7 linked regions of the Homo sapiens genome follow. The protein of the gene in region 1 interacts with the protein of each later gene in a pairwise test. Each region holds a gene or a part of one and is shown in the gene's direction. Other genes may lie near its edges.

Evidence for each region.
Region 2: the proteins of CCDC125 (region 1) and PTPA interact in binary tests that used the Homo sapiens proteins (3 or more experiments, as listed by UniProt).
Region 3: the proteins of CCDC125 (region 1) and TCHP interact in binary tests that used the Homo sapiens proteins (3 or more experiments, as listed by UniProt).
Region 4: the proteins of CCDC125 (region 1) and ZNF557 interact in binary tests that used the Homo sapiens proteins (3 or more experiments, as listed by UniProt).
Region 5: the proteins of CCDC125 (region 1) and HDAC4 interact in binary tests that used the Homo sapiens proteins (3 or more experiments, as listed by UniProt).
Region 6: the proteins of CCDC125 (region 1) and NEBL interact in binary tests that used the Homo sapiens proteins (3 or more experiments, as listed by UniProt).
Region 7: the proteins of CCDC125 (region 1) and PKP2 interact in binary tests that used the Homo sapiens proteins (3 or more experiments, as listed by UniProt).

What each region holds. Positions count from the first base shown.
Region 1 is NC_000005.10:69,315,189-69,319,577, reverse strand, and holds part of CCDC125 (coiled-coil domain-containing protein 125), read left to right. Parts: intron 1-4,389. UniProt on the Homo sapiens protein: May be involved in the regulation of cell migration.
Region 2 is NC_000009.12:129,145,607-129,149,995, forward strand, and holds the end of PTPA (serine/threonine-protein phosphatase 2A activator), read left to right. Parts: exon of another isoform or gene 1-1,780; coding exon 1,781-1,858; 3' UTR 1,859-3,340; downstream 3,341-4,389. UniProt on the Homo sapiens protein: PPIases accelerate the folding of proteins. It catalyzes the cis-trans isomerization of proline imidic peptide bonds in oligopeptides. Acts as a regulatory subunit for serine/threonine-protein phosphatase 2A (PP2A).
Region 3 is NC_000012.12:109,910,274-109,914,662, forward strand, and holds part of TCHP (trichoplein keratin filament-binding protein), read left to right. Parts: intron 1-789; coding exon 790-962; intron 963-2,717; coding exon 2,718-2,799; intron 2,800-4,168; coding exon 4,169-4,354; intron 4,355-4,389. UniProt on the Homo sapiens protein: Tumor suppressor which has the ability to inhibit cell growth and be pro-apoptotic during cell stress. Inhibits cell growth in bladder and prostate cancer cells by a down-regulation of HSPB1 by inhibiting its phosphorylation.
Region 4 is NC_000019.10:7,075,803-7,080,191, forward strand, and holds part of ZNF557 (zinc finger protein 557), read left to right. Parts: intron 1-578; coding exon 579-705; intron 706-4,389. UniProt on the Homo sapiens protein: May be involved in transcriptional regulation.
Region 5 is NC_000002.12:239,110,319-239,114,707, reverse strand, and holds part of HDAC4 (histone deacetylase 4), read left to right. Parts: intron 1-2,995; coding exon 2,996-3,182; intron 3,183-4,389. UniProt on the Homo sapiens protein: Responsible for the deacetylation of lysine residues on the N-terminal part of the core histones (H2A, H2B, H3 and H4).
Region 6 is NC_000010.11:20,886,849-20,891,237, reverse strand, and holds part of NEBL (nebulette), read left to right. Parts: intron 1-1,288; coding exon 1,289-1,393; intron 1,394-3,030; coding exon 3,031-3,141; intron 3,142-4,389. UniProt on the Homo sapiens protein: Binds to actin and plays an important role in the assembly of the Z-disk. May functionally link sarcomeric actin to the desmin intermediate filaments in the heart muscle sarcomeres.
Region 7 is NC_000012.12:32,872,591-32,876,979, reverse strand, and holds part of PKP2 (plakophilin-2), read left to right. Parts: intron 1-4,389. UniProt on the Homo sapiens protein: A component of desmosome cell-cell junctions which are required for positive regulation of cellular adhesion.

The sequences.
Region 1 (4,389 bases):
CCCGGGAGGCGGAGCTTGCAGTGAGCCAAAATGGCACCACTGCACTCCAGCCTGGGCGACAGAGCAAGACTCCATCTCAAAAAAAAAAAAAAAAAGTAGTCGATGTTTATATTTCTAAATATTGTACAGTACAGTAGTTATGCATCTAATATATTAATGATATCTATAAATGATTACCAACCTTGCCTTTTTTGTGAAGTACTTTTTTTTGCAGTCAAATATTTACTGGGCATCATTAGGTGTCAGGCACAGGTCCAATTTCTGAGAATAATGTCAGTAAACAAAATAGACAAAGGCCCTAATGTCATGGATTTCACATTCTAATAGAGGAGATAGAAAATAAACCTGCAGGCCGGGTACAGTGGCTCATGCCTGTAATCCCAGCACTTTGGGAGGCTGAGGCGGATGGATCACTTGAGGTCAGGAGCTTGAGACCAGCCTGGCCAACATGGCAAAACCCCATCTCTACTAAAAGTATAAAAATTAGCTGGGTGTGGTGGCACGTGCTTGTAGTCCCAGCTACTCGGGAGGCCGAGGCACAAGAATTGCTTGAACCCGGGAGGTGGAGCCAAAATTGTACCACTGCACTCCAGCCTGGGCAACAGAGCAAGACTTTGTCTCAAAAAAAAAAAAAGAAAAAAAACCAAAACCCTGCAAATCAACAGATGTGTAACATTGGGCAGTGGTAAGTGAAGGGATAGTGAGTGATTATGGGGAATGGGGTGCTAGTATTTCAGGCCAGGGTTAGGAAGGCTTCTGTAAGGAGGTGACATTTTTTTTCTTTTTACTTTTCTTTTTATTTTTTATTTTTATTTATTTATTATGAGGTGGAGTCTCACTCTTGTCGCCCAGGCTAGAGTGCAGTGTCACAATCTCGGCTCACTGCAACCTCCGCCTCCTGGGTTCAAGGTATTCTACTGCCTCAGCCTCCTGAGTAGCTGGGATTACAGGTGCCCGCCCCCATGCCTGGCTAATTTTTTTTTTTTTTTGTATTTTTAGTAGAGATGGGGTTTCACCACGTTGGCCAGGTTGGTTTCAAACTCCTGACCTCAAGTGATCCGCCCACCTCAGCCTCCCAAAATGCTGGGATTACAGGCATGAGCCACCGTGCCTGGCCTTTTTCTTTTTTAAAAAGAGACAGTCTCACTGTGTCACTAAGGTGGAGTGCAGTAGCATGATCACAGCTCACTGCAACCTCAAAGTCCTGGGCTTAAGCAATCCTCTTGCCTCAGTCTCCTGAGTAGCTGAGACTACAGGCATGTTCCACCATATCCGGCTAATTTAAAAGAAATTTTTTCGGCCAGGTGCTGTGGCTCACGCCTGTAATCCCAGCACTTTGGGAGGCTGAGGCGGGTGGATCATGAGGTCAGGAGTTTCAGACCAGCCTGACCAACATGGTGAAACCCCATCTGTACTAAAAATACAAAAATTAGCCAGGCATGGTGGCGTGCACCTGTAATCCCAGCTACTCAGGAGGCTGAGGCAGGAGAATCACGTGAACCTGGGAGGCGGAAGTTGCAGTGAGCCGAGATCGCACCACTGCGCTCCAGCCTGGCGACAGAGCAAGACTCAGTCTCAAAAAAAAAAAAAAAAAAAAAAAAAAATTCTAGAGACAAGGTCTCACTATGTTACCCAGGCTGGTCTCAAACTCCTGACCTCAAGCAGTCCTCCCACCTTGGCCTGAGCACCAGAATGAAGGGGAGAGTAAGGCAGTGGATCTTTGGGAAAGGAGTGTTCCAGGAAGAACAGAGATGCTTCTGGTTATTTTAGGAGGTCATGAAACTCTCAAAAATTGTCAAAACAGTTAGTCTTAATTTATCATAACCAAAAAGAAATTATACCTTACCTTATGGAAATAATAAAATTTAGCATCGTATTTTGATAAAATGTTACAACTCCAAAATGATCGGGAGTCTGTGGATAAGCCCATGCCTGTACCATGGCACCAGCTGTTATCTGGCTAAATATTTTGTAATCTATGTTGTAAAACTTCCTCTTCTGAAACTTCCCCTCAAAGTTGAACAAACACAAATTAGAACAACATGAGAGTGATTTAAGAAACATGGTTTCAGATTTACAAAAATACGTGGTAGCTCGTGGTAGCTCAGGGTTCATCCCCATCCTTCAACATCCCTCTTGAAATCAGAATGGGATTATTTTTATATTTTTCTTCCAATTCCTTATTGTGTATAGAGAATGGATACTGTTTTGAAAGCAAAATGTTGGAAACTGAGCATGATGCTAAGATGCCTTTATAAAAACATGAAGATGCCAGGTGCGGTGGCTCATGCCTGTAATCCCAGCACTTTGGGAGACTGGGGTGGGTGGATCATGAGGTCAGGAGTTTGAGACCAGCCTGGCCAAGATGGTGAAACCCCGTCTCTACTAAAAATACAAAAAAATTAGCTGGGCATGGTGGCAGGTGCCTGTAATCCCAGCTACTTGGGAGGCTGAGGCAGGAGAATCACTTGAACCTGGGAGGCGGAGGTTGCAGTGAGCCAAGATCACACCACTGCACTCTAGCCTGGGCAACAGAGCAAGACTCCATCTCAAACAAACAAACAAACAGCATGAAGAAACACTGGGGTATAAATAAGATTTAAATAGTAATAGTATGAGTTCCCATTTTGTTGGGTTATGAACTTTTCTTTTTATTAAAGTTGGCCCTATCACTAATAGATAATTTCCAAAATACCACACATTTAATGGCTTAAAACAACACAAATTTATTATTTTACAGTTCTGTAGGTCAGAAGTCCCAAACAGGCTACGTCTGGTAGCTGATGCCTATAATCCCAGCATTTTGGGAGGCCGAGGTGGGAGAATCACTTGAGGCCAGGAGTTCGACACCAGCCTGGTCAACATAGAAAGACCACACTCCACAAAAAAAAGTTTAAAAATTAGCAGGTGTAGTAGTGTGCACCTGTAGTCCCAGCTACTTGAGAAGCTGATGCAGGAGCACTGCAGCCTGAGCAATAAAGCAAGACCCTCTCTCTGTGGGAAAAAAAGTCCCAAATAAATTTCAGTGGGCTAAAGCCAGGGTGTTGGCAGGGTGCGTTCCTTCTGGAGGTTCAGTGGGAAGACTCTACTCCTTTGCCTTTTCTAGCTCCAGAGGCTACTGCATTCCTTGGCTCATGGCCCCCTCCCCATCTTCAAAGCCAACGATGGCTGAGTCTTTCTCACATCATATCACTCTAACATTTACCTTCTCGTCTCCCTCTTTCATGTATAAGGACTCTTATGAGTACACTGGACTCACTTGGATAATCCAGAGTACTCTCCCATCTCAAAATCCTTAATCTCATCACATCTGCAAAGTTCCTTTTGCCATGTGTTCACAGCTTCTGGGAATTGGCATGTGGACATCATATTCTGCCTACCACAAGTATTAATAGAACAGAACTTGTCACTGCCAACCCAGAGTCACTCTGCCCTCCTTGGAAGCCTGTATCATCAATCACAGTACAAACATGATTTAGGTTTTGCCTTAGATACTGTCATGTTAATGAAATTTCAGAATAGCAAAGAAAGTTGTTTTGAGAAATATTTTTTCAAAGCAAACATTCTTCTCAATAAAATTTTTTTTTTACTTCCTATACTCTTGCTTATAACTTGCCACTTTAATTTTTTTTTTTTTTTTTTTTTTTACTGCCGTTGAGGCAGAAAGGAAAATGAAGCTCTTAGGAAGCTCAATTTAAATTCTCAGTTGATCACATTAAGGAGCAAATAATTGAAGTTACAGGACTCTTCTAGTCATTCTTTTTGGAAAGAAATTAAATTTAGGTTTTTTTTTGGTTTCTTTTTTTTTTTTTTTTTTGAGACGGAGTTTTGCTCTTGTTGCCCAGGCTGGAGTGCAATGGTGCGATCACAGTGTGCACTGCAACCTTTGACTCCCGGGTTCAAGCGATTCTCATGCCTCAGCCTCCTGAGTAGCAGGGATTACAGGCGCCCGCCACCATGCCCGGCTAATTTTTGTATTTGTTAGTAGAGATGGAGTTTCACCATGTAGGCCAGGCTGGTCTAGAACTCCTGATCTCAGATGATCCACCCTCCTCAGCCTCCCAAGGTGCTAGGATTACAGGTGTGAGCCACCACACCTGGCCTTTTTTTTTTTTGTTTTTTTTTTTGTTTTTTTTTTTTGAGACAGAATCTCGCTCTGTTACCTAGGCTGGATTTTTAGTAGAGACAGGGTTTCACCATGTAGACAGGCTGGTCTTAAACTCCTGACCTCAGGTGATCTGCCTGCCTCAGCCTCCCAAAGTGCTGGGATTACAGGTGTAAGCCACCGTGCCCAGCCTTCAGGTTATTTTTTTTATTTTTTCGAGACAGAGCCTTGCTCTGTCTCCCAGGCTGGAGTCTAATGGTGCAATCTCAGCTCACTGCAACCTC
Region 2 (4,389 bases), on another chromosome or scaffold:
CAGAAGTCTGACCAGCCTGGCAGTAGGTGGCCTCAGGATTTGGGTCTAACTCTGCTCTGTCCCAGCCTTTCTGACCGAAGAACCAAGTGCTCTCAGGGGCCTTGTGTGGTTGCGGGGCGGCGGGGGGGAGGGTCTGTCTTTCCTCTGGGCCATGGCTGTGTGGGTGCTGCCTTCAGAAGGACCTTGTCAGGACCCAGGGAGTCCCTTCCCCAGCTTGAATCACCTCTGGCTGGAAGGTCAGGGGGCAGTCTGAAGCCGCTGCTCCGCCCAGGTACATGGGAGGGCCTTGCTGGGAGAAAGGCTGGGCTGGAGGCTCCTCCTGCCCTGGAGCCTTAGGCTTCCTTGGCCCAGCTCCTGTGGCTCTGAGGGGGCTGGCTCTGGGGTCCTGTGGGCAGAATGGGAAGAACCCCTGCCTCCACCCCTTCTCGCCTTGCAACTTCTTCTATGGGAGCTAGAGGGAGGTTGACCTTTGACCCCTTCTGGAATTCCAGGGCCCTTGGGGGGTGGGGGGGCTCTTATGACCACTTCTGGGATGACATAAGCACCATGGCAGCTGCCTTGGCCTCTGGCCTGGATCTGCGGCTGCTCCCCCTCCCGCCCAGGGACCACCTCCCGCTCCCTGCTCCCGCATTCTGTGTCTCAGGCCCAGGATCCTGGCTGTGGCCAGGGCTCTGCTCCCCACCCCACCATGAGCTTGGTTTCCATCCTTCTTTCCCTCCCCTCCTGGCGCCTCTTTGGCCCACTCGTCACCCTGGTGCTTCTCCCTCTTAGGTTCCACAGCTGATTTTTGAGGAGAGGGAACCTGGGCCAGTCATAGCACCCGTTTGTCTCTAAGTTAGTTGGAGGTTAAGATCACAGCCACAGAGTGAGGCTCTTACTCTCTCTGAGGCCATAAGTCTTGTTCCACCCCAGCCAGGAGGTGCCTAACATACTCTGTTTTCTGTGGCCAAAGGTGTGGGAGGAGGCCCTGGTCAGTCTTGGCAGATCCAACCCTCGCATGCCCAGAACGGCTCCTGTGAGAGCTAGTGTCCAGGTGTGGCAGGCATGGGGGTGCTGTTGCGGGAGCTGCAGCTGGAAGCTGGGGTTGGCTGCCTGTGGGCCAGGCCAGCTTCTGTGATAGGCCCTGTCACTTGCTCTCCAGCTCTGCTCCTCTGCTAGGAGCCCGGGCTGGGCTGGGCTCAGGGAGTCGGGCCTCCCCCGTGCTCAGCCATTCCCCTGTTCAGCGCTCTTTTTCCCCTGCCCCCCACACAGGCTGCTGGGAATTGCCCAGGGGTGGGGGGAACTCAGTGTCAGCTGGTTCTTATTGTCTCGCTCTGAAGTGCCAAGATGCCTTTTTCAGTCCAGAGAACTGAAAGCTGGAGAAAACAGGCTTTGGGACCCGGCCTCAGCCTCTTAGGCTTACGTTCAAATGTCCCCACGTCTCTTCTCTAGAACTGGGACCTGGGCTGGGGGTCCCCAGTGATCAGGAGGGTTCTTTCCACCTCAGGTTCCCAACTTCCCTCTCTGGGCCAAGTGATGGCACCTGGCTGCCTCTCTTCTCGGTTTCTACCTTGTAGGTTTGGGCTGCCTTTTCTCTTTCTCTCTCTCGTGGGTCTCGTTGTGGAGTGGGTGTCTTTGGATAGAAGGAGTGAGGAACTGGGGGAGGAAGGCCTGGGGGATCCCCTGGCGGGGCTACTTCCTGGGCCCGGGATGGACACCTGGGAGCTGCTGCGGTTGTTGGGGTCCTGGCAGGGGTGTGGTGTGGCCCTCACCACTCTGCTCACCTGCTCCTTCCTCACAGTGCCTGGAGAAGTTCCCTGTGATCCAGCACTTCAAGTTCGGGAGCCTGCTGCCCATCCATCCTGTCACGTCGGGCTAGGAGGGGCCAAGCCGAAGAGCCACCCAGGCCACAGTTCCTGTGCCTGCCTTCCCCACCCCAGCAGTGGCCCCTCCCCATCCCCTCCCTCTGTTCGTCCCGTTTGATGAGAGGCTGTTTACTGGGGTGGGGTGGCGAGATGGGCTTGAGGGGGCTCAGAGCATAAGGCTTCAGGGCCCAAGTTGGGAGAAGTGACCAAAGTGTAGCCAGTTTTCTGAGTTCCCGTGTGCTAGACTGGCCAGAAGAGAGGGTCTGGGGCCTGGTCACTCGGCCACTCTCTCCTGTTTCTGGCCTCTTCTCCCTTCACTCCCGTCCAGTCTGGTTTTGAGAGCAGGGGCTGTTCTGCAGCACCGCAGGGAAGGGAGGAGAGATACCTGCTGCTTCCATTGCTTTTCCCTTCCTGGAGTCGATGCCTTTCTAAGGGTTGGAGCTGCTCCTTGCAGGGGCGGGTCAGTTTCCCAGGCCATGCCGGGGTGGCCATCTATGGTAGGGCTGGAAGCTGAGGCTGGCCGCCAGCTGTGGGCTGGGGTGGGGTGGGTGGGGTCGGGTGGTGGAGAGGCCTTAGCTGTCCTGGCTGGTGCCCCTCCCAGGCTCCTTTTCACCCTGCCCCCTGGGCCTGAGGCCCCCTGTGTCCAAGCCTCCCCCTGGCTCTTCAGTTCTCTAGCCCTTGGCTCTGCTGGGTTTCCTGACTGTAGCCACATCTCTCCCGCTCCCTAAGGGTAACCTAGCCAATGGAAGCTGCCCTTTGGGTAGGTGCTGGGCTCCTGGGAGGGCCCAGATGATGGGGTGAGGCATGTCTTTCCAGAACTTTCCCTGGCAGGGAGGGGATGGCAGAAACTCAGGGAGGGGCTTGGGGCCCATTGTATCTGGAGAGCCTGGATTCCTCTTGGCAGTCTTAGGCCCGGCCACTTCTGCTACCTTTGCGCTGCTGTGAGCCTCACCCTGGGCCCCTGGGCCCTGCTTCTCTGCTCCCCTGGGTGATGGGTGGGCCCAGAAGGTGGCAGTCCCACACCTTGTCCTCCCACCTCCCTGAACTGTCCATTGCTTTTATAGGGTGAGGTAAGAGACAGCCTCCCAAGCCCAGGCTTTGGCACTCAGAATGGGCCCAGTGGGGGCTGGGCAGGCCCATTGAGGGCCACCGCCGAGGTTTCTCCTAGGGCTGTTCCTGGGCCTGGCTCTTACAGGCTCGTCCCCCAGGCCTGCCCTTCTCCACTGCCCCCTCCTGTGTCTGGGTCCACACACCCTTCAGGAAGGGGGAGCACTGAGAAGCACAGCACAGGGGCTCAGCCTGGGATCCGGTGATGGTCTGGGCAGAGGCTGGGTCAGGAGTCCCAAAGGTCAGTGACAGTTTCTCAGAAGAGGCCCAGCGTCCACCTCTCTCCCAGGGCCAGACAGCCCTTCCTGGCTCCCCCATCCCCCTATGGGCTCCCAGCCCCTTGCACCCTCATTGCTGTTCAGATTAAAGCCTCTGTTTTGCACCTGTCACTTGTGTGAGGTATGTCTTTTCATGTCACATGTTTAACCCATTTCTGCATGACTGACCTCCATCAGGTCCCCTTCTCTCAGGCCACAGTGTCTGAGACGAGCTGTTTCAATTTGGGTTGAGCCTTTCCTGGGTTTAAATCCTAGCTGTCTGCAGTCCCAGCTGCAAGGTTGTAAGTTACTGAAGCCCCTGAGCCCCAGCTTCCTCAATTCACAAAATGGGGACAGTCACAGGGTGACTGCCAGCAGTGGACAGCAGATGTGAAGTCCTCAGCTCAGGGCCTGGCACATAGCATATCCCGGGTGGTCACTGCAGCTGTGCTTGGTGAAGGGGGCCCCTCTGGACTCCCAACTTAGCCCCAAGCTGGCCAGGGAGCCTTTGGATGGGCTTTGACAGTGGAACATGCACCTGTGGTTTGTGAGGGGGTGGCCCTCTATTCTCCCTCCTCTGCCCCTCCTGTCCCTGCTGGGCTGGAGTTGAGGGTCTCTGGGGCTGCTGTGCCCCAGACTTCCTTAAGACACTCTTGCTCAGAGAACAAGGGTCCTTGACCTTTCTCTTGGCCTTAGAGGCCTTGCATGGACTGGAAAGCCTCAGCCCCTCATCACCTTGCGCTGCCTCAGGCACACCCGAGTTCAAACTGAGCAGCTGCTGCTTACTCACCAGGAAGTAGAGGGCCCTCATGGTTGACTTCTCTCTGAGCCTCAGCTTCCTGATCTGAAAAATGGGCATAATGACGTTCCTATCATTGGTCTTGAGGATTCCTTCATTTCACAAATAGTGGCTGCATGTTCCTCATGACTGCAGTGCACCCAGATATGACAGTGTTAGGTAGCCGGTGGATTATGGAGAAAATAACGTCAATTAGAGAAGGCGTTGATGGGGGCAGGGCAGGGGGTTACTTGCTCTAAAAGGTCCTGTGAGCTGAGACCCTGAGGACAAGAAAGAGCCGCTGTGGAGAGCTCAGGCCTGGGCCTGGAGGGCTAGGGTTGGGTATAGGGGCCAGACTTTTAGGCCGGGGCCTTGCGGGCTCTGCTGAGTTTGGACAGTGTTC
Region 3 (4,389 bases), on another chromosome or scaffold:
ACTGCGGTCAGGGCAGGACATGGGGCACAGTGGCATGGTTGGTCCTGGTGTGCAGCTGTTTTTTATGGGGTCTTGCTCTGTTGTCCAGGCTGGATTGCAATGGCGCAATCACGGCTCACTGCAGCCTCAACCTGCCAGGCTCAAGCCATCCTCCCACCTCAGCCTCTCGAGTAGCTGGGACCATAGGTGTACATCACAATGCTTTGTAGAGATGGGGTCTTGCTACATTGCCCAGGCTGGTCTTGAACTCCTAGGCCCAAGTGATCCTCCCACCTCAGCCTCCCAAAGTGCTGGGATTGCATGCATTAGCCCCAGTGCCCAGCCTCCTGCATTATTTTAATGCTTCCATTATGTTGATGTACATAGTAGCTAATTCCCCACCAAGGAGCATTTTGGTTGTTTCTGGTTTTTCCCTCTTACCTAAAAGCTGCAACGAGTGTTTTGCACTTTTGTGTCACTGTGGTCTTTGTTCTTATAAGTGGGATTTTTGCCAAGTTGTATTCCAAAAAGTTGTGCAACCAGGTGTATCCGAGGGCATGTGGTGGTGGCTGGGTCTCCCTTTAGCCAGAGAGAAGCTCCTAGGCCTGTGCAGTGTCTGAACCACCCCTCGTGATTATCCCCAGTCTGTTCCAGAAATAATCCAGGATCTTCCCATCTCTGTCTTGAGAACACTGTGTAGAATCACGAATGTCTATGTAGAAAGGAAAGGGAGGGCAGGCCCCTCTGTAGGCTCTCATTGCAGAAGGACTCTGTCCAGCCCAGCCACGTGCCGCCCTCTGCTTCCTCTAGGAGGCAGACAGGCGGATCCTGCAGGCCCTCCTCGAGAAGGAGGACGAGAGCCAGCGCCTCCACCTGGCCAGGCGGGAGCAGGTCATGGCCGATGTGGCCTGGATGAAGCAGGCCATTGAGGAGCAGCTGCAGCTGGAGCGGGCGCGGGAGGCAGAGCTGCAGATGCTGCTGAGGTGAGTGGCAGCTGCTGACTGGGCTGGATGCTCCTGGCCTCAACTCTGATACCTTGAAATGCCCCATGGGTCACCTGTTACTGAAATATCTATTGGCTGGGCGTGGAGGCTCACACCTGTAATCCTAGCACTTTGAGAGGCCGAGGCAGGTGGATCGCTTGAGCCTAGGAATTTGAGATCAGCCTGGGCAACATGGCAAAACTCCAGGCTCTACCAAAAATACACAAATTGGCCAGGCGTGGTTGTTCATACCTGTAGTTCCAACTACTCGGGAGGCTAAGTGGGAGGATCACTTGAGCCCAGGAGGTTGGGGCTCCGATTAGCCATGACTACACCACTGCACTCCAGCCTGGGTGACAGAACGAGACTCTGTCTCAAAAAAAAAAAAAAAAAAAAAAGAAGAAGAAGAGATAGCTGTGTATGTTGTCCATCATTCCTGAGGAGCACATCTTCATAATGGACCTGGCCTCTGGGGGTGTTTCCCTTGTATTATCTGAGGTGGAAATCATTAAGGTTTAGAGTAACGATGTGTTCATCTGAAATCTTAGAGGTTTAGAAGGAAATTATTTTTTTTTTTTTGAGATAGAGTCTTGCTCTGTCACCCAGGCTGGAGTGCAGTGGCATGATCTCGGCTGACTGCAATCTCTGCCTCCTGGGTTCAAGTAATTCTCTGCCTCAGCCTCCCGAGTAGCTGGGATTACAGGCGCCCGCCACCACACCCGGCTACTTTTTGTATTTTTAGTAGAGATGGGGTTTCACCATCTTGGCCAGGCTGGTCTTGAACTCCTGACCTTGTGATCCGCCAGCGTTGGCCTCCCAAAGTGCTGGGATTACAGGCGTGAGCCACTATGCCCAGCCAGAAGGAAGTTATTATAGAGATGTTGAATGCTGCTTACATCTATAAAACTGAGTTTGGGTCCTAAAGACTAAACTAGTAGATTGAAATCATCAAATAATAAGTAGCATACATTGAGCACTTACTGCATGCTGGACACTGTGCCGGGTGCTTTACAGGCCTCATCTTACTGAGTCCTGACATCCAGCCAAGTGGTGGCTTGTGAGACCCGGAGACTTGAAGAGGTCACTCCGTCCAGGGTGAGCTATCAGTGACACAGGCATGCGGTGGCAGGGTTCAGGCACAGGCAGCGCCCTCCTCTCCATGTTCTGATGGTTTCATTCATCTCTGTGTTAAACAGCCACGGTGTAAGTCATCCCAATTCCTTTTTATAAGGAGATGGGGTATTAAAAGGGTAACTTAAAATACTTCCAACAGGGCCAGGCACGGTGGCTCACGCTTGTAATCCCAGCACTTTGGGAGGCCAAAGCAGGTAGATCACTTGAGATCAGGAGTTCAAGACCAGCCTGACCAACATGGTGAAACCCTGTCTCTACTAAAAATACAGTAATTGGCCAGACATGGTGGCACATGCCTGTAATCCCAGCTACTCAGGAGACTGAGGTACTAGAATCGATTGAACCTGGGAGGTGGAGGTTGCAGTGAGCCGAGATCGCACCACTGCACTCTAGCCTGGGCAACAGAGCGAGACCCATCTCAAAAATAAAAAAAATGAAAAACTTCCAACAGTACTTTCCGTGGATGCTGTCCTTAATTGTAATCTTTTCAAAGTGCATGTGGATGTTTATCTGCAGTGTGGTCCTGCAGAAGCCATGTGCCCTGCAGCCCTGTCTGTTCCGTAGCTCGCTTCCTGCCAGGGCGGGGAGGAGCCTGCTGTCATCCCTTTTGTGTTTGCCCAGGGAGGAGGCCAAGGAGATGTGGGAAAAGAGAGAGGCAGAGTGGGCCCGAGAGCGCAGCGCACGGGACAGACTGATGAGCGAGGTAATCCCAGCTGCGGCGATGTGGACCGGCTGTTGGGTCTTGGGCAGGTGTCTGGAAGTCCATGGTCAGTCACCCTGCCAGATGCTCTGGGAACAGAGTCTTCTCTGGTCATTTTAAGTGGGCTTTAAAAATCATTGAAAAAGTAATATGAGCTTAGTAGAAAAGAATTCAGAAGTACAGGAAGTAGAAATGGAAAAAAGTCCCCCAGAGCCCATCCTGTATGCAGCCGTAGCTGCTGCTTCTGTCTGCTCTTCTGTTTCTATGCCTGACATTTTTTCTACATGTATTTCTTACTGTCTTGTGCTATTTGGCTTCAAGCGTTGTGACATGCTGTTACATCTTTATAAACGGCATGTCAGGGGCTGTATCACGGACTGTCCTCTGTCACCCGCTGCCTTTCCATTCCCTCTTATGGGTGTGCTGTGTTGTTCTAATTGGAAGCCATTCTGAGAAACGCTGCAGAGAGCCTCTTGGTGCCTGAGGCTCTTCCCACACGTTTCCCCCCTCGGGGTAGATGACAGCCGTGACCTGGAGGACATAACTGCTTTCCTGGTCAGTGTGTACACTGTGCGTGGAAGATATACCCCAACCGCAGAGAAATCTGGGAGGAGAAGAGAGAGTGTTACCCATGGGCTGAAAGCTGTTGTAAAGTGGTTTCAAATGAGAAACTCTACGTTGTGTCTGGTAGTATGCTGTATTTTGGAATCCACAGGAAATTGGGTCGTGATTGGTGATGTTTTGCTCTTGTAAATACCAAGAATTCTCCAGTGCCTTTTGATTTTCCTCATTTAAATTTCCCTCCTGATGGCGGCCACTTTCTGTTCCCCCCAGCCCTGCAGCCTAACTGTTGAGAGTGTCAGGTGGTTTTCTGCTCCTGACTGTGGCCTGGGCTGGAGTTCAGATGTCACACGGCTCTGGGGCCAGGTCTCAAACACAGCAGGTTCAAAAGGTTAGAGGACCACCCCAGCTCCACCTCTGGTCATCTGTGTGGCTTGTGGCTCTCTTGTTTTTGGAACCCGCTGATAGGAAGGAGACTCACCTTGTTGCTCCAAGGTTTCTCTGGCCCCGGGGAGACAGCTCCATCCCCATCTCCTTTGATTTCTTTGGCACTCAGCTGTCTCTCCATAGTACACAGTCTGGATACATTTTGTGTGTCTTGGGTTGCGAGGGAAACATTTCTTGTATACTGGCAAGCGTGGCCGACATCGTGAGAGCAAATCCTGTCATCTGGCTCTGCCTCTGCGTACCTGGGCCTGAGGCCCAAGGATGAGGCTGGGCCTTGCTGTGGCTGCAGCCTGTCCAAGGCTTGTAGAACCAGGATCTGTTAGGGTCAACCTCAAAGCTGCCCTTTTCTTTCTGCTGAGGTTAGGTTCTGACAGGGAGACAACAGCAAATACAAGAGAAGATTGAGCAGAACCGACGGGCACAAGAGGAATCCCTGAAACACAGGGAGCAACTTATTCGAAATCTTGAGGAGGTGAGAGAGTTGGCTCGTCGCGAGAAAGAGGAGAGTGAAAAGCTGAAATCGGCCAGGAAGCAGGAGCTGGAAGCCCAGGTAGGGCTGAGCCCAAGGGCGGGAGGCACCGGGCC
Region 4 (4,389 bases), on another chromosome or scaffold:
TGCCTTTCAGTGGCCTGGAGCCCCACGGCCAAACTTGTTCCTCAGGCATCCCAGGGTCTCTGAGTGAGGGCTGCCCAGAAAATGTCAGTGTGTGTCAACGTTTACTGCAGGTTCAGAGCTCCCTCCAGAGTCCCTGAGTACATCATGTGCTCCTGAGAGTTTTAAGGGAAAGCCAAGTAAAGACGTGATGATGTTCTAAACCCAAGCAATTAATAAAGGCCATACGGAAATCATTCATTCACTTACCAAGTATTTCTCTGATTTCTGCCATGTCACGGGCCCATGATCCCCTGGAGACTGAGGGAAATAAGATCATAGGAGCTCCCAGTTTGAGTGAGAAAAGACAGCTGCTCTGCGGTACTGTGCGCTGGACCTGGGAGTAGCCTAAGGAGACAAGCATTGAGGGCTGAGCTCAGAAGCCAGGGAGAAGAGCTCAGAACCTCAGGAGAGGAGCTCAGAATCCCCCCACATCTCGTGCTCAGGTTTCCCCAGCCCTGGCTCTGTTCTCCTGGCCCCTCTTCCTGTGCACATTGGTGGGGGTGGTCCTTGGCTAAGCCGTGATGTTTGCAATGCTTTAGGGCTTGGTGACCTTTGAGGATGTGGCCGTGGAGTTCACCCAGGAGGAGTGGGCATTGCTGGACCCTGCCCAAAGGACACTGTACAGGGACGTGATGCTGGAGAACTGCAGGAACCTGGCCTCACTGGGTAAGCCTAATGTCATTCCTGCATTTATTTAATGACTCAGGAAGTCAGTCTTTTTTTTCTTTTTTTAAATTGAGGTAACACAGGACACAAAAGTCACCATTTAAACTATTTTAAAGTGTCCAATTTGGTGGCTTTTCGTAGGTTCACAGTGTAGTACAGCCATCACCACTAATTCCAGAACATAGTTGTCACACCAAAAATAAGCCCCATAGTCATGAAATGGTCTCTCCCCAGTTCTCCCTCCTGAACATCTTGGCAGGCACTAATCTTTCCGTCTCTATAGATGTGTCTCTTCTTTTTGAGGGGGTTGTTTTTAGACAGTGTCTCCCTCCGTCACCCAGGCTATAGTGCAGTGGCGTGATCCTGAGTAGCTGGGACCACAGGTGCGGACCACCACGCCCAGCTAATTTGTTTATTTTTTGTAGAGACAGGGTCTTGCTATGTTGCCCTGGCTGGTCTCAAACTCTTGGGCTCAGGTGATCCTCCTGCCTTAGCTTCCCAAAGTGCTGGGATTACAGATGTGAGCTACCATTCCTGGCCCAATTCTTGACATTTTATATAAATGAAATCATACAAAATGTGGTCTTTTGTGTCTCACTTTTTGCTTAGCATAATGTTTTCTTTCTTTTTTTTTTTTTTTTTTTTTGAGATGGAGTTTCACTCTGTTACCCAGGCTGGAGTGCAGTGGTGTGATCTCAGCTTACTGCAGCCTCCACCTTCCAGGTTCAATCTGTTCTCCTGCCTCAGCCTCCTCAACAGCTGGGACTAAAGGCATGCGCCACCACACTCAGCAAATTTTTGTGTTTTTAATAGAGATGGGGTTTCACCATGTTGGCCAGGCTGGTCTTGAACTCCTGGCCTCAAGTGATCCACCCACCTCAGCCTCCCAAATTGCTGGGATTACAGGGATGAGCCACCACGCCTGGCCGATGTTTTCAAAGTACAGCTGTGTTGTAGCACATAGCAGAACTTCATTCTTTTTATGGTTGAATATTATTCCGTTATGTGTATATACCACTTTTTATATATCATTTCATCAGCTGATGGAAATTTAGCCTGTTCTCATCTTTTGGCTATTGTGGGTAGTGCTGCTATGATCATTCATATACAAGATTTTGCTTGAGCACCTGTTTTCTCTTGGGTATATACCTAGGAGTGGAACTTCTGTGTCCTGTGGTAATTCTGTGTTTAATGTGTTGAGGAATGTCCAAACTTTTCTACAACTGCTACACCATTTTACATTCCTACCAGCAGTGCATGAGACCAGCAACGTATTAGTTTCTCTGCATCCTTACCAACATTTGTCTCTTTTCCTTTTTTTAAAAAATTATGATAGCCATTCTTGTGGTTGTCTGTCTCATTGTGGTTTTTATTTCTATTCCCTAAAAAAAATGATGAGATTGGCCATCTTTTCTTGTGCTTGTTGGCCATTTATACATCTTTTTTGAAGAAATGTTCATTCAAGTGCTTTTTCCATTTGGGGGGCATTGTTTGCCTTTTCGTTATTGAGTTGTAAGAGTTCTTTATATGTTCTGCATCCTAGACCTTTATCAAATATATCATTTTCAAAGATTTCCTCCCATTCAGTGGATTGCCTTTTTACTATCTTGAATGATAGTTTTGCAGGAGATAGAATTCTTGGTTGATATTTTTCTTTCAGTACTTGGAGTATGTCATCATCCCACTGGCTTGCGGCCTCCATGGTTTCTGGTGACAAATCAGCTGTTAATCTTGTACATGATGACTTATTTCTCCCTTGCCATTTTTCAGGATAGTCTGTCTTTGGCTTTTGACAGTTTAATGTTAAGGTATCTCAGTATGAGTTTTTAAGTGTATCCTATTGGGAGATCCTTGAGCTGCTTTGATGTGTAGACTTGTAATTTTCATCAAATTTGGGAAAGTTTGGCCATTATTTTTACATATATTCCTTTTTTTTTTTTTTTCCCGGAGTCTCACTCTGTCGCCCAGGCTGGAGTGCACTGGCACGATCTCAGCTCACTGCAACCTCTGCCTCCTGGGTTCAAGCAATTCTCCCTGCCTCAGCCTCCTCAGTAGCTAGGATTACAAACGCGCACCACCACAGCTAGCTAATTTTTGTATTTTTAGTAGAGACAGGGTTTCACCATGTTGGCTAGGCTGGTCTCGAACTCCTGACCTCAGGTGATCCTCCCACCTCGGCTTCCCAAAGTGCTGTAATTAGAGCGTGACCCATTGCACCTTGCCAATTTTTCCATATATTCCTTCTGCTCCTTTCTCTGTCTCCTCTCCAGTAGCAACTCCCATTATGTGTATTCAGATGTTTGATGGTATCTTCTGGGTTTCTTAGGCTCTGTTCATTTTTTTCCCTTTATTTTTAATTTCTGCTCTACAGATCAGGCAATCTTAATTGACCTGTCATCAAGTTCACTAATTGTGTCTTCTGCCTGATCAAGTCTTCTGATGAACCCCTCTAGTACATTTTTCATTTCAGATAATATATATTTTTCAATTTTAAAATTCCTATTTGGCTCCTTTTTATAATTTCCATCTCTTTATGATTTTCTCTATTTGGTGAGAATTCATTCTCATGGTTTCCATTAGTTCTTTGTACACAGTTTCCATTAACTCCTTGAGCATATTTGAAATAGTTGATTTGAAGTCGTTGCCTAATAAATCCAATGACTAGGTTTCCTTATGGAAAATTTCTGTTCATTTCTTTTTTCCTATAATGCAGTTTCATTCATTTTTTGTTTCTTTTTTTTTTTTTTTTTTTGAGATGGAGTCTCACTCTGTCACCCAGGCTGGAGTGCAGTGGTGCAATCTTGGCTAACTGCAAGCTCTGCCTCCCAGGTTCACGCCATTCTCCTGCCTCAGCCTCCCGAGTAGCTGGGACTACAGGCGCCCACCACCACGCCTCGCTAATTTTTTATATATTTAGTAGAGACAGGGTTCACCGTGTTAGCCAGGATGATCTCGATCTCCTGACCTTGTGATCCGCCCACCTTGGCCTCCCAAAGTGCTGGGATTACAGCCATGAGCCACCGCGCCCGGCCCATTTTTTTGTTTCTTTACATGCCTCATAATTTATTTGCTGAAAACTACTTTCAGAATATTACAATATGGCAGTTCTTTAAATCTGATTTCCCCCCTCCCCAAGGTTTGTTGTAGTTGGTATTGTTTCTTTGTTTAGTGACATTTCTGAACTAATTTTGTAACGTCTGTATTGGTCATGTGTGGCCACTGAAGTCTCTGTTCTGTTAGCTTAGTGTTCAGCTTGGGATTAATTTGTCAGAGATTTTTTTAAATACCTGGAACCCAAAAGATGACCAGTCTTTGCCAATGGATCTGAATTACATGTTGGAGCATGCCTTCAAAACTCAGCTAAAGCATCTTACAACTCTGACTTAGCCTTCAGTTCCTTCTTATGCAGAGCCTGAAGGTCAGTCAAAGGTGAGGGCTTGGTGCCTTCTCAGATCTTCTCTGAGCATGTGTTCATCCCTGGGTATGAGCATGGCCTTCTAGAAATGTGTGGAGGCCGGGCGCAGTGGCTCATGCCTGTAATCCCAGCACTTTGGGAGGCTGAGGTGGGCGGATCACCTGAGGTCAGGAGTTGGAGACCAGCCTGGCCAAGATGGTGAAACCACATCTTTACTAAAAATACAAAAAAATCAGCCAGGCGTGGTGGCAAATGCTTGTAATCCCAGC
Region 5 (4,389 bases), on another chromosome or scaffold:
GGAACTAGAGGTATTAATTGATCAAAAAGGCAGGCAGGGCCTGATCAGAAGTCAAGACCTTTTGTGACCCAGAGGTGCTAATGAGCAGCCCTGCAGATCCAGACAGACGGGTGCGATTGTGGCACCCAGAGCCAGTAAGGCTTCAGGGCACTGACACCCAGTAACCAAACTCACAGGAGACTGATGAAGAAGGCCAGTGAATGACTGGTTAATTTCCATTGAAACATTAAACTTCTGAGTCAGCAGAAATACCTAAGGCATTTGGGCAGCCAGCTGGAGCCCCGTATCTGCAGCTAGAGTGCCCTCAGGAAAGTGGCTTCCTCCCTGTAGGCAGGAAGCCAGTCCGAGGAACCACAGCTCTGTAGGATTTGATTCTATCCTCCAGCAGCAGAGCTGCTGCCTCGGCTGCAGGAGCCACTGGCTCGTTCCCTCCCTTCTCTCTGGACTCCATGCCGGCCGTGCCGTTGAGCACCTCCCCAGCTTCCTGACTGCCAGCTGTGTGGCCAGACGCTGCATCTCCACCCCCAGCAGCACCTTGGAAGCCAGGAGCAGGACGCCCTGCAGTAAACTGTTCCCCTTAATTCTCAGCTACAGTTCTTAAATGCTTGCCACTGAATGAATCAGTGTGGGGCCTTGTACCTGGAGCACCTAGACCCAAGCCTGCCACACACGGGATCAGTGCTCAGTGGTCTCCAGAGGCTTCTGGGTCAGGAGCCCTTCTCCACCGAGCTTCCCCCAGTGGCTGGCATTGGGTGCTATTTCTCCTTCTTGTTCAGAGGGGGGCCTGTCTCTAATTTCTGGGCCTTCTTAATTAGCACCCCGGGCACTAAACACTACAAAGCCCAGCAGAACTAACGCTTGGCAAAGACAGAGAGAGAAAGCCCCGGGCCTCTCTGGCACACACACGGTGCTTCATGGTGAACACTCGTCCACAGGTCCTGTCCGACAGGCCCAGGGTGGGGGCCTCTTCCTGTGGTCGGGCCTTGTAAGTTGATGAAGATCTGAAATTCAGTGTGCTATTATTAGGCTGATAAGAAATGGGAAACTATTTACATTAATAATTTTTAGGGCTAGTTTCTCATAGATCAGCCTTTACTTTGAGAAAAAGAGGCTTGTTATATTCCAAGCATGAGATGATTATTAGAAACACTTATTTTCTGTTCTCTCTGGAGAGTAATAGGCAGAACCCCTTATCAGGGAAACGTCGTAGTACACGGAGCAATTTGCCGAGGTAAACATAAGGCGGGGCACCTCCAGCCCGCGTCGGGGAGGATTGCTTATTAACCACTTAACCGCGTGGGGCCCACGGCAATCCCAGCTGAATTTGGTCAGCAGCAGACTGGGGGCCTGTGGGTGCTGGCTCCTGCTCCAGCTCCTGCTGCAGCTCCTCCCACTGTCTCAGGGCTTCCTTCTTCTCTGCTCCCTCCTGGCTCTGATTCCTTTTGTGTGTGTGTGTGTGAGACAGAGTCTCACTCTGTTGCCCAGGCTAGAGTGCAGTGGTGCCATCTCAGCTCACTACAGCCTCCGCCTCCTGGGCTCAAGCAATTATTCTGCCTCAGCCTCCCAAGTAGCTGGGATTACAGGCACCCACCATCACGCCTGGCTAATTTTTTGTTTGTTTGTTTGTTTTGTTTGTTTGTTTTTTTGGAGAGATGGGGTTTCACCATTTTGGCCAGGCTGGTCTCGAACTCCTTACCTCAGGTGATCCACCCGCCTCAGCCTCCCCAAGTGCTGGGATTACAGGCATGAGCCACCACGCCCAGCCTGATTCCTAAAGGCAGGACAGATCGGAGCCTGGCCGGGTAGCTCTGGTTTCCCCCAGTGCTGGCAGCACAGGGCTGGGCTCTGCCTTCATACAGGAGCTGGGATGTAGGTACCTGGTTTTCCATGTTCACAGGATTTGTTCATCAAAACTAAGACAGGATTGGCGCAGAGCTCCCAGCAAGGAGGCGCCCGGCTTTCTTTGTGCCTCGGCCTGGGTGGCAGGTTGCTGTGCTCTCCCTCAGCTGCTGTCTGGGGAGAGGCTTGGCAGCTGTGACCTCATCTCTGCCCTGCTCCCTCCACTCCACTCTGCCTCGTATGGGGGTTTGCACCTCAGCCTGTTCCCAGAATCCCTCAGGGTGTCCCAGGCCCCTGGCTGAGTGCCCCCCCCACACACAGAGCCCAGCCCAGCTCCATCTCATCAGAGAGGCACATCCCCACCAGCAGGCCTGCTCTAGGCCCCAAAGGTCCTGGGTGCCCAGAAGCTGATGGGCTGTTACTGCTTTTAGCCTGCACGAGGGTGTGTGGGATGTGAGACCAGGGAGGGGAGCGGCTGCAGATGAAGCCCAGTTGGCACTTTCAAGTCTGAGAGCCGATGGTGCTTTCTCGCCCAAGTTTGGCATGCAGATTCAATGCTGTTGGTCAGAACTAAGACCCACAAACCCAACAAGGGGGTTGGGCTTCGTGCCCACTCACCGTATGTGTGTGGTATGGCAGAGTGGACGCTGTGGTCCCCACATCTACATGGCCTTCGCATATCCCCCAGTGAAACCAGCGAGGGCCAGGCTGCCGCCCCAGCAAGAGCTTCTCTCCACACCTGCCAGGCCCTACTCCCCTGCACCTGCTCCAGGCTGCTCCTGGCTCAGCACCTCCTCAGAGAAGCCCTCCTTGATACCCCATACTGGGCCAGGCCTCCCTGGGACCCCCTGACTCAACCTGTGTTATCCTGTTAACGTAACCCATGGCAGGATCCCACGTGGACAGCCTGCCTTCCCTAGAGAGACCGTCCTGGGAGGCAGAGCCTGTGCTGGCCTCGTTCTTGGCTCTGGGCCCACTCAGGCTTCAGGGCACTCACAGGGAAGGCCTCTCCACGCAGCTGGCCTCCCGGCATCCTTGTGGCCCATGTATGGCCTGTGCGTGGACGGGAGACTTGCAAGAGAGGGCAACCCCTAGCCCTGCAGCCCAGGGGCGGGAGACATCCGCAACCGCCAACACGGCCGTTTCTTCCCCGCAGCAAGCCCTCCTGCTGGAGCAGCAGCGGATCCACCAGCTGAGGAACTACCAGGCGTCCATGGAGGCCGCCGGCATCCCCGTGTCCTTCGGCGGCCACAGGCCTCTGTCCCGGGCGCAGTCCTCACCCGCGTCTGCCACCTTCCCCGTGTCTGTGCAGGAGCCCCCCACCAAGCCGAGGTTCACGACAGGTAACACGTGGCCTTTGTGCAGCCTGAGGGTGCAACGCGGGCCACAGTGGGCACAGCGCGGGGGGCTCTTCCCGGCCCAGCTCTGCAGAGGCTGAGGAGGGGCTGGGCAGGCACGAGGGCCACGCTGGATGGTGGGGACCACACAGGTCTGTCACAGAGGCCCTCTCCCCGCCCTACACCCCACACCTTCAGTTCTGTCATGCTGGGGACCTGTCACGGGCTCACTTGCCCACTTTCCTGTCCCAGAGACCCATGGTCTCCTCCAAGAACAGTCCACAGCCCATGCCCGTGGGGCCATGAGAACCTACAGCTTCTGGTCCGGCTCAGGAATCATGAGCCCACGCTTCTCCGCTTACTCCCTCACACTTCGCCCACGTCCACAGCGTTGACGCTGAGGCTCCAGTGACAGGGCTGTGAATGGCTGGCGGGGGGCTGTGATTACACGAGAGCAGAGCCCGGGACCCCTGGGACACGCTGTGGGAGCCACACGTCCTCTGTCTGTGCCATCCCTCATACCATCCTCACCCCGGGGAGGCGATCTGCCAGCAGGGGTCCTTGGTTTTCCCTCACAAGAAGGAGGCAAGTAAGGCGTCCACCACGGCTGAGGAGGCAGGAGGGGCCGGGCCCTGGACTTGTCTGCCTGGAGCTAGCCAGAGCCGGGGAGGAGACTGCTGTCCTGGGCCGCCCCGCCACCCAGCCACCCCTGCAGGGGAGAGGAGGGAAGGAGGGCTGGCTTCTGGCAGGGCTTGCCTCTGAGACAAGCACAGAGGCAGGAGCGCTCTTCATGTTGTTATGATCTAATATTTCTTGTTAATGACGCACTAAGAAAAATGTTCTGTAAATACAGCACGGCTTCATTCTTCAGATGATTCTCATCACGTGGCTTAGTGTTCTGCAGTCTGCGAGGTTCTCACTCTCAGGTCTTAGAAGGATGCTATTCATATTCAGAGACAAATTTCCAGAGTAGGTATCCAGCAAGTAAAATGCTGCTTCTCAGAAAGAAAACCATGGAAGGTCACAGGAGCAGCCAGATGACCCACTCCACAAGTCCTGGGCAGCTGACTGCAATAAGTGTGTTCTTGAAAGAATGCAGCTCAGACAAGGGAGACCCCAGTCACCGCCACCAAGGAGAATCCTCCCACTAAGCTGGCCCACCCTGGCTGGTCCCAGGAGACTTGCAGGGAGTCCCGCTTCGTTGGTGTCCTTT
Region 6 (4,389 bases), on another chromosome or scaffold:
AAATGTTTAATGTGGTAGGCATCTGATATCCAAGAGTCACAGCAGTGAAATATGGGATTTTGAAATAACTTCACTTAATCTGTATCTAGTTCTACCACAGGTTAAGTAATGCCCGTCAAATCAGGCTTGCATATGGGAAAATCTCCATGTACCATTAGTGTATAACATCAATATTATTCACATCCTCTAAGAACCAGGTAGTATATACAATTCAGCTCCACTTTTGGGTTATAATTAGGGAGAACATATAATTTATCATCTGAAACAGGAACACTTTTTCAGTTTAAGTATTTATGGTCTTGGGAGGATAAACACGAGCATATTACAGAGTGATACAACTTTTAGCAAATTACCTGCATCTTCTCAATGAGTCATAGTTTTGCCTTCCCAGTTTCCAGATTGTGCAGCAATTAGTGTGACAGTGTGATTATACTTTAGGTCCTTCTCCACATTTCCTGACTTCTTTTGGGCTCAAATATCCACCCGGGTCTTCCCCCGGCATAACAATTCTGGCCTATCCCCAAAGGGGAAGAGAGTGAGTCATTTGACTTGTGAGTTGCAGAGAAGAGATGAGCAGGTTTAGCTAAGCCTCACTGGGCTTTGTCTTGCTGATCTCCAGCAAGAAGGCCTTCTGGAATGATCTCCACCACATAGCAAGCTTTCTGGGCAGGTTCAGTTCTTCTCTGCGCTCAGGAGGAGGATTGGGAAGCCTATGGGTGCTCATAAATTGGGAGGAATTAGTAACAGGAAGCCCACGTTGGCCACAATTTAAGCCTCTTCCTCTAATCAAGCATGTCTAGGTAATAACGGTAATAGTGATCCCCATTTAATTTCGCCTCTACTTCTTAATTGGTCACATCTGTCATGCTGACTACTTATTTTCTACCTTGAGGTAGGCAGCTGTGTTTCTGTTTGGCCAAAGGCTTATGTGTCAAGGCTTAAAAGCAACAAAACACCAGGACACTTGTAGGAGCGAGATGGCACATGCTTGCTAATTGCACTGGGCTGGCTGGGTAAACAGGACCCATCACCCGTAGCCAGCACGCCTGGTGTTGATGCTTAACTGGACCCTCGCTTATCTAAAGAATGGTCTTTCCTCACTATGCCTCATCATCTTTGCAATCCTGTGCTGGATAGCCGTTTATTTAACTTGGCTTGTTTTGAGGTCCCTTTCACACTTGAGTATTTACTTCAGTAAATGGACTTTATCAACCTAATTATCATTCAAAAAAGGCCATTAGAATTGTTTTTCTTTTTCTCTTCTTATGTAAATCATTCTCTTTTTTAGATCCGTTATAAAGAAGAGTTTAAAAAGTCCAAGGATAAGTGTACATTTGTGACTGACAGTCCTATGCTAAACCATGTAAAAAATATCGGTGCTTTTATTTCTGAGGTAAGGTATCAAAAGCTTGCAAACTGGCTTGCATTTATCTTTTTCTTATTATATAGATGAAAGTCTGTGCATTAAAGAGATGAAGAATAATATTTTCAAAAGCACTACTGAATGTTAGTAATAGCTACATAATTATCTAATGTGATGCGCTGTCATTTAACTCATATAGATTGACAGATTTTACTATGTATGCTTCATACATTTTATTATATATGTCTATATTTTGACTCTAAATCTTTCTTATTTATATACGATTCCTCTTGAAAAGGCATCTTTTTATTAAATAAGTAAAAGCACTGGCACAATAGTTCACTTTAGAAGTTCCATTATTTTGTTTCCTAATAGATATATCAGAGATAAATGATTGAATATCATTTTGGAAATAAATAAGATTTACCAGTTTTCTAAAATGTGATATCTTTGATAAATAATTTTAAATGTATTTAAACTATTTTGGAGTAGGATAAAGTTCAGTTCAACAGTGATACCTATTATAAAATCACAGACTGAGGAATACGCTATATTCATTTTCCAGCTGAAAAATTATGTAGTTTCTTTCTGAGAGCATTTAGAACTACAGTTTATGTTGCATTGTAAAGCACAATGTTAACGATGATGATTTCTGTGGTGAGGCATTACTGTAGTCTGTGAATAGATCACTTAGAAGAGATACGTTTGAAAAGAAACGGAAATGAAATAGTGTTGTAAATGACTGACCTCTAGTGTTTCATAAATTATGTTGGAAAAAGATCAACTGGATGTCCTTGGGATTATTTCTGCTAATGCGAAACAATTTTGAATGAAATCAGTACGTTTTCTTTCATTAAGTACCAAAATCCAAAGAGTGTGGTAGCAGAAGGCTAGCACAGGATCTGTGCTCAATAAATCAATACTGAAATCTAGCTCTGAGCAGGAAGAACATCAGGAACTCATCTGCAGATAATGGAAGAACATAGTTTGTTTGTCTTAGCTATGTTCCATTCTCCCGTGCAGATAAATACTTGATGTTCTCAATTATTGATTATGTTTCCTGAAGGAGTTAATTGCAGAGCAAAATATTGGAAGTGAGCAATCTATTGTGTTCCCTTGAACCTTAGTTTTCCCAAGAGGAAAGAGTGTTTGTCTTTAGAGTAGTGACTGAGATGGCTTAAAGACAGTGCAGGCTAGAGGTGGGTAGGCACATAAACAACAAAAAAGCACTCACTCCCCTCTCCCCCTGGAGCAGGAGGAGGCTGAGAAGACCTGAATAAAAGAACACTGTCCTTTGTCAAGTTCTAGATAGTAGATTCTAACGACTTGCATTTTCTGGAACAACTCGAATTGTTTGCTCACTCATCCAGCATGAAACTGTCAATATACACAAATAGATTTACTTTTAGAAATGTGCTTGCATTTAAATAGAAAGCCATTATGTCCTTGCATGTCTCATTGAAAGCGTTCTCTATGATAAATTGGATTTATTTCTATCTCTTCAGAATCCTGGAGTTTGTCAGCTCTGGTATCTAAAATTAAAATGGTCTGCAGATTTTAAAATCAATTCTGTTTTGGGAGAAAGTTTCTTCTTTTCTACTTATAATCACAGTTTAAAAAAATGGAAGTTTATTTATTTATTTTTTTCCTGTTTTTTTTTCCCCCAGGCAAAATACAAAGGCACCATTAAAGCTGACCTTTCTAATTCTCTTTATAAGCGGATGCCAGCCACAATTGACAGTGTTTTTGCAGGAGAAGTTACACAGCTCCAGAGTGAGGTAGGGTTTTTCTAAAGTGTTTCATGATTTTGTAGATAAAACATATAACTGGAAAAAAGCTACTTAGCGTTTTAATAAAACGTTTTCATCATGGGTGTTAAATACCAAATGAAAGTTGAAAGCAACTGATTAATGTGCTGTCAGTAGTTGCTGTTGAAATTGCAGAAAATGAAAAGGACACGCAGGTTTATGTCAGTCACATGGTACTGTTTTCTGAGTCCCATTCAATGCAATTTATAGAGCAAATCTTAATCTCATTTAGACAGCTTACATGGATGAAATTCTTATAGTAAATATTAAACTGTTCTCTAATTTGATATATGATCCCTAAGTAGAGAATATTTGAATAGCTTGTTAAAAGCCACATAAAGAGATAATGGGGCTGGACACTCTGGCTCAGGCCTGTAATCCCAGTACTTCAGGAGGCCAAGGTGGGCAGAATGCTTGAGCTCAGGAGTTGAAGACAAGCCTGGGCAACATGGCAAAAGCTGGTCTCTACCAAAAATACAAAAATTAGCCGTTTGTTGGCATGCACCTGTGGTGCCAGCTACTCAGGAGGCTGAGGTGGGAGGATTGCTTGAGCCTGGGAAGTTGAGGCTGCAGCGAACCAAGATCATGCCACTGCACTCCAACTAGAGCAACAGAGTGAGCCTCTGTCTCAAAAAAAAAAAAAAAAAAAAAAAAAGGTTGAATTCAGGATCCACAGATCTGCTTCATCAATTAGACAAGTGTTTCCTGAATTTCCTTTTCTGTAGATTGTGTTTTTCCTTTAGGATATCTCAGGCTACCAAAAATAGCCCCCATCAGGTGGAAGTTACTATTTGGTGATTGCCAGTTGCAGAGGAACTTAAGAATTGTCATCAGGTAAACTCATTTTGAATCCAGAAGGGTTTAGGAGTAATTTTCTCTTTGTAGCATATCAACACATAAGGCATTCTTAATCTATTGCATTTCCTAAAACAGACTTTCTAAATGGAATGTTTCACCTCTTTCTGGTTCATCTTAATGTTGTGTTTTCTTCACAGAACAATCAAATTTGGGGAGGTTATTTTGTTAATCTATTCTTTAGCTCTCTCAGCTACGTGAGAGCAGGGACCTCATCTGTCTCGTTCCTTGCTCTGGTCTTGTGCTCGGAAGAGTTCCTGGCACATAGAGAGTGCTCAGTAAAAACTTGTAAAATGGATTTTGTGGAATTTTAAAATTTTCTTTCTAAGGATATGCTTCCTTTTACATAGTTTGTATTCTTCA
Region 7 (4,389 bases), on another chromosome or scaffold:
TAATAAACTACTTCTCAAAATGATGAGGGCTAATCTAATCTTAACACAGGAAATATTTTTTATGATGTAAAATTCACCATGAGATTTCTAACATTTCTTATAGTAAGCAGACCTTAGGCAATATGAGCATACTTACAAAGAGGAAAAATAAGCCGGGAGCAGTGGCCCAGGCCTGTAATCCCAGCACTTTGGGATGCCCAGGCGAGCGAATCACTTGAGTTTAGGAGTTCAAGACCAGCCTGGGCAACATGATGAAACCCCATATCTACGAGCAATACAAATATTAGCTGGGTGTGGTTGTGTGCACGTGTGGTCCTAACTACTCGAGAGGCTGAGGCGGGAGGATTACTTGAGCCCAGGAGATGGAGGTTGCAGTGAGCCAAGATTTGTGCCACTGCACTCCAGCCTGGGGAACACAGTGAGACCTTGTCTCAAAAAAAAAAAGAGAAAGTGTATCAGGTCATTGTTTATGGAGGAAAAAGCTGATAAAGGCTTTTAAACAGGTAATTCAAAATTTATGGAATGCCTACCATAGCCTAGGATTTGTGATAGCCACAGTTTTAGCAAAATGATTTTAACAGTAACAAAATTATTATCTGACATCCTCCAACAACTGGCATTCTCTCCCTCCATCTCTGTGTCCCTTGCTTCTTGAACCACCCTGTCACTTCCCAGTCTCTCGTCAACCCACTGCAATATGATTTCAGTCCCCTCCATTCCACCTAAACAGTCTCCTGACAAATGTAGCAATGATGGCCTTATCTGCTACATCCTAAGCAGACACTATATTGAGTAATATAAGCACTGCTTATATTACTCAACCTGTGGGTGGTGTTTGAGACACCATGAAATTCTCTCATCCCTTGGTTTTCAGGGCACCAGCTTCCCCTGGTTTTCCACTCACCTCTCCAGCCATTCTTTGTTAGTGTTCTCTGCGTGCTCCCTTTCTGCCTGCTCAAAGAAGGCATCTTCAGTAACCCTTCTATTCCAAGTCTTGATGCTCTTCCAGAGAGGCTCTGTGTACCTCACTTTTATCCTTATGGTTCTCAAAGTTTTGTCTGCAATTCCATCCTTGATGCCAAATTCTGGACCTATATGAAAATGTAACAACCTCCTGGAAATTTCACACTCAGTATATCCTAAACTAAACTCATCATCTCCCTATCCTCAACTTCCACCCATCTCCTCCTGCTGTAGTCTACTATTTTCAAACCTGGAAGTCATTCTTATCTTCTCCCTCTGTAGTCACCTATCACCAAGCCATATTTTTCCTTCTATGATGGGTCTTGAATTTTTACCCTTCTTTCCATTTCCATTACACAGGGCTCTCTGCCTCTGGTCTTGCTCAGTCAGAACCGTTCTCTAGGACTGTCAGAATTATCTTTCCACATGTGATTGTTTATAACCCTTCCATAATTCCACTAAGTGTTCATGCTTTTAGGCATGACCTACAAGCCCCATTGTGTTTTCAGCTCTGCTTATCACTTCAGCCTCTTCTCCTTCTACTCTTCTCTGCCATTCATCACCACCATCCCCAAACATACCCACATACCAATACCCAAACCACCTGGAACCTCTTTACTTTCCTTAATGCAAGATATTTATCCATATTCATTCTCTCTCTCTTTCCTTCTTTTCCCCCACTCCACACCTTTACATATGCAGCTCTACTTTTGTCTGACTACTTATAATTCTGGATTTAGCTCAGATACCACCTATTTTCTGACCACTTCCTTCCCAGTCTAGCTTAGGTGCCCCAGATAGCAGCCTTGTGTGAGTGTCTCTATCAGAAAAATATATTGTGGCTATTCATTTGCTTATCTGTTCTCCCTCTGGACTTTGAGATTTTTGTGAATGCTCAATCATCTTTATATTCTCAGCACCCTAAAATGGAAGTAGGCCTATAGTAGGCACTGTATAAATATATGATGAGGCCAGCACAGTGGCTCACATCTGTAATCCTAGCACTTTGGGAGGCCCAGGCTGGAGGATCGCTTGAGCCCAGGAGTTTGAGACCAGCTTGGGCAAAATAGGGAGACCCCGAGACCCCACTTCTATTAAAGATAAACAACTTAGCCTGGCGTGATAGTGCCCACCTGTGGTCCCAGCTACTCCGGAGGCTGAAGTGGGAGGATTGCTTGAGCCAGGGAGGTTGAGGCTACAGTGAGCTGTGATTGTGCCACTGTACCCCAGCCTGGGCAACAGAATGAGATCTTCTTTCAAAAAATAAGTATATGGTGAAAGAGTGAAGGAATTAAAGGAAGGAGAAATGAAATATAAATTTTACTTTTTGCCATCTAGGTTCTTTTGTTGCTCAAATTCTAGAAGTATTAGTCATACTATTTTTGGATTATTGTTTTAATAGACAGGGTAAATTGTATTATAATATTTAATCATATTTCCAAGAGTAGAAGGAACACTTGGGGTCAAGAAATTTAAAAATAATGAGTAAGAAATCTCTTCCTGAGATTTCCCCAAATTCTAGAGAGTAGAAATCATAGAAATCAACTTTTTTTCTCTGATTATGAAAGGAAAATTTGGCTCTCTGTGAAAAGGAGAGGGAGCCAGACGTATTTTGTGTAATGAGGAAGATAGATGCCCAAGGTGGTGCCTGTGCCTGTCTGACCTCCCCCTTTCCTCTGCTGGGCTCCACGCCTCATTTCAGTTCCCCAGGCTGCTCCCTGGGACACCTGCCCTGAGACCACACACTGTGTTCTCTTTGGTCCCGCATTGTCAAACTTTGTCCAGCCCTTTTTTGGGGGGGATTTAAGTTTTTATGCCTAGTGAAACTCCCACATGTAAAGGAGTATTCTTTCATATATGTTGAATATTAACTGGACAAAACCATAAACCTGCATAATGACTTAAGGTATTAAACAATGGACCTGGCTTTCCAAAAGAAGAATGGCTGGTTAAACAGTTACTAATGCAGCTAAAAACTGAGACTTGGAGTGTGAGAGAGACAAACTGATGAAACCGATGTTCTAAATCAAACTGATGAAAAAGGTTTTTAAGAATCACCACAAAAAAAATTATAGATGAATTTTTCTAAAACCATGATTTATGACCAGTTGGAGGCTGATGGTTCTGCAAATGAGTAGTAGGATCTTCATAGGTCCTTCCCAGTAAGCATCACAAAAGATGAAAATGGGCCGGACGCGGTGGCTCACGCCTGTAATCCCAGCACTTTACGAGGCCGAGGTGGGCGGATCACTTGAGGTCAGGAGTTTGAGACCAGCCTGGCCAACATGGTGAAAACCCGTCTCTACTAAAAATACAAAAGTTAGCCAGGCATGGTGGTGGATGCCTGTTATCCCAGCTACTCAGGAGGCTGAGGCAGGAAAATTGCTTGAACCCAGGAGGCGGAGGTTGCAATGAGCTGGTATCGTGCCATTGCATTCCAGCCTGGGCGAAGGAGCAAGACTCAGTCTCCAAAATAATAATTAAATAAATAAAAGATGAAAATTGAGTGAGATGTATGATGGTCTAGGAGAGGAGCAGTGAAAAATAGGATATATCATCAAGTGCTAGGTTGTGTGATACATATTAGTGTCTACAGAAATTTAAAGAACACAAGAGCAGGGCCGGGCATGGTGGCTCACACCTGTAATCCCAGCACTTTGGGAGGCTGAGGCTGGCAGATTGCTGGAGCCCAGGAATTTGAAACCAGCCTGGGCAACATGGCAAAACCCCACTTCTACAAAGTACAAGAATTAGCTGGGCATGGTGGTGCATGCCTGTAGCCCCAACTACTCAGGAGGCTGAGGCAACAGAATCACTTGAGCCTGGGAGGTCCAGGCTGCAGTCAGCCATGATCGTGACACTGCACTCCAGCCTGGGCAACAGAGTGAGACCCTGTCTCAAAGCAAAACAAACAAAACCCACAAGAGCATCGTGCTCTGGGATTAGTTGAGGGAGACTAAGCAGAGAGGGTGGATCTTCTCTAGGATTGACAGTCAAATTTGTGACCAAGAGCACTGCAGAGCAGAAAACAGATCATATTGACTTCCCTCCACGTCCTCTTAATTACTACCTGCTTTAGTTCTTTAATTTTTCATCTCTTTCAACTCTACCTTTTTTTTCCATTTCCATTTTTAACAGCCCAGTTCAAGGCTTTTTTGCCTCAGCTGAACCTTTTATAGTGCCCTCAACGCTGTCTCTCTTTCAAGAAACACATATCCATTCCAGAGTCATCTTTCCAAAGCATTGCTTTCATCCTACTTTAAAATATTTGTGGGGATTTGCATTTACTGAGCGTCTGACAATACTTGTAGGAGCTATCCATTCATCATTTTATGTTTGCTTTGCCTTCAGAGGTGTAGCCATATTCTAATATCAGGGGAACCAGCCTGGGCAGGGCTGTGTTGTTAGTTGGCAGGAATGCTGGCT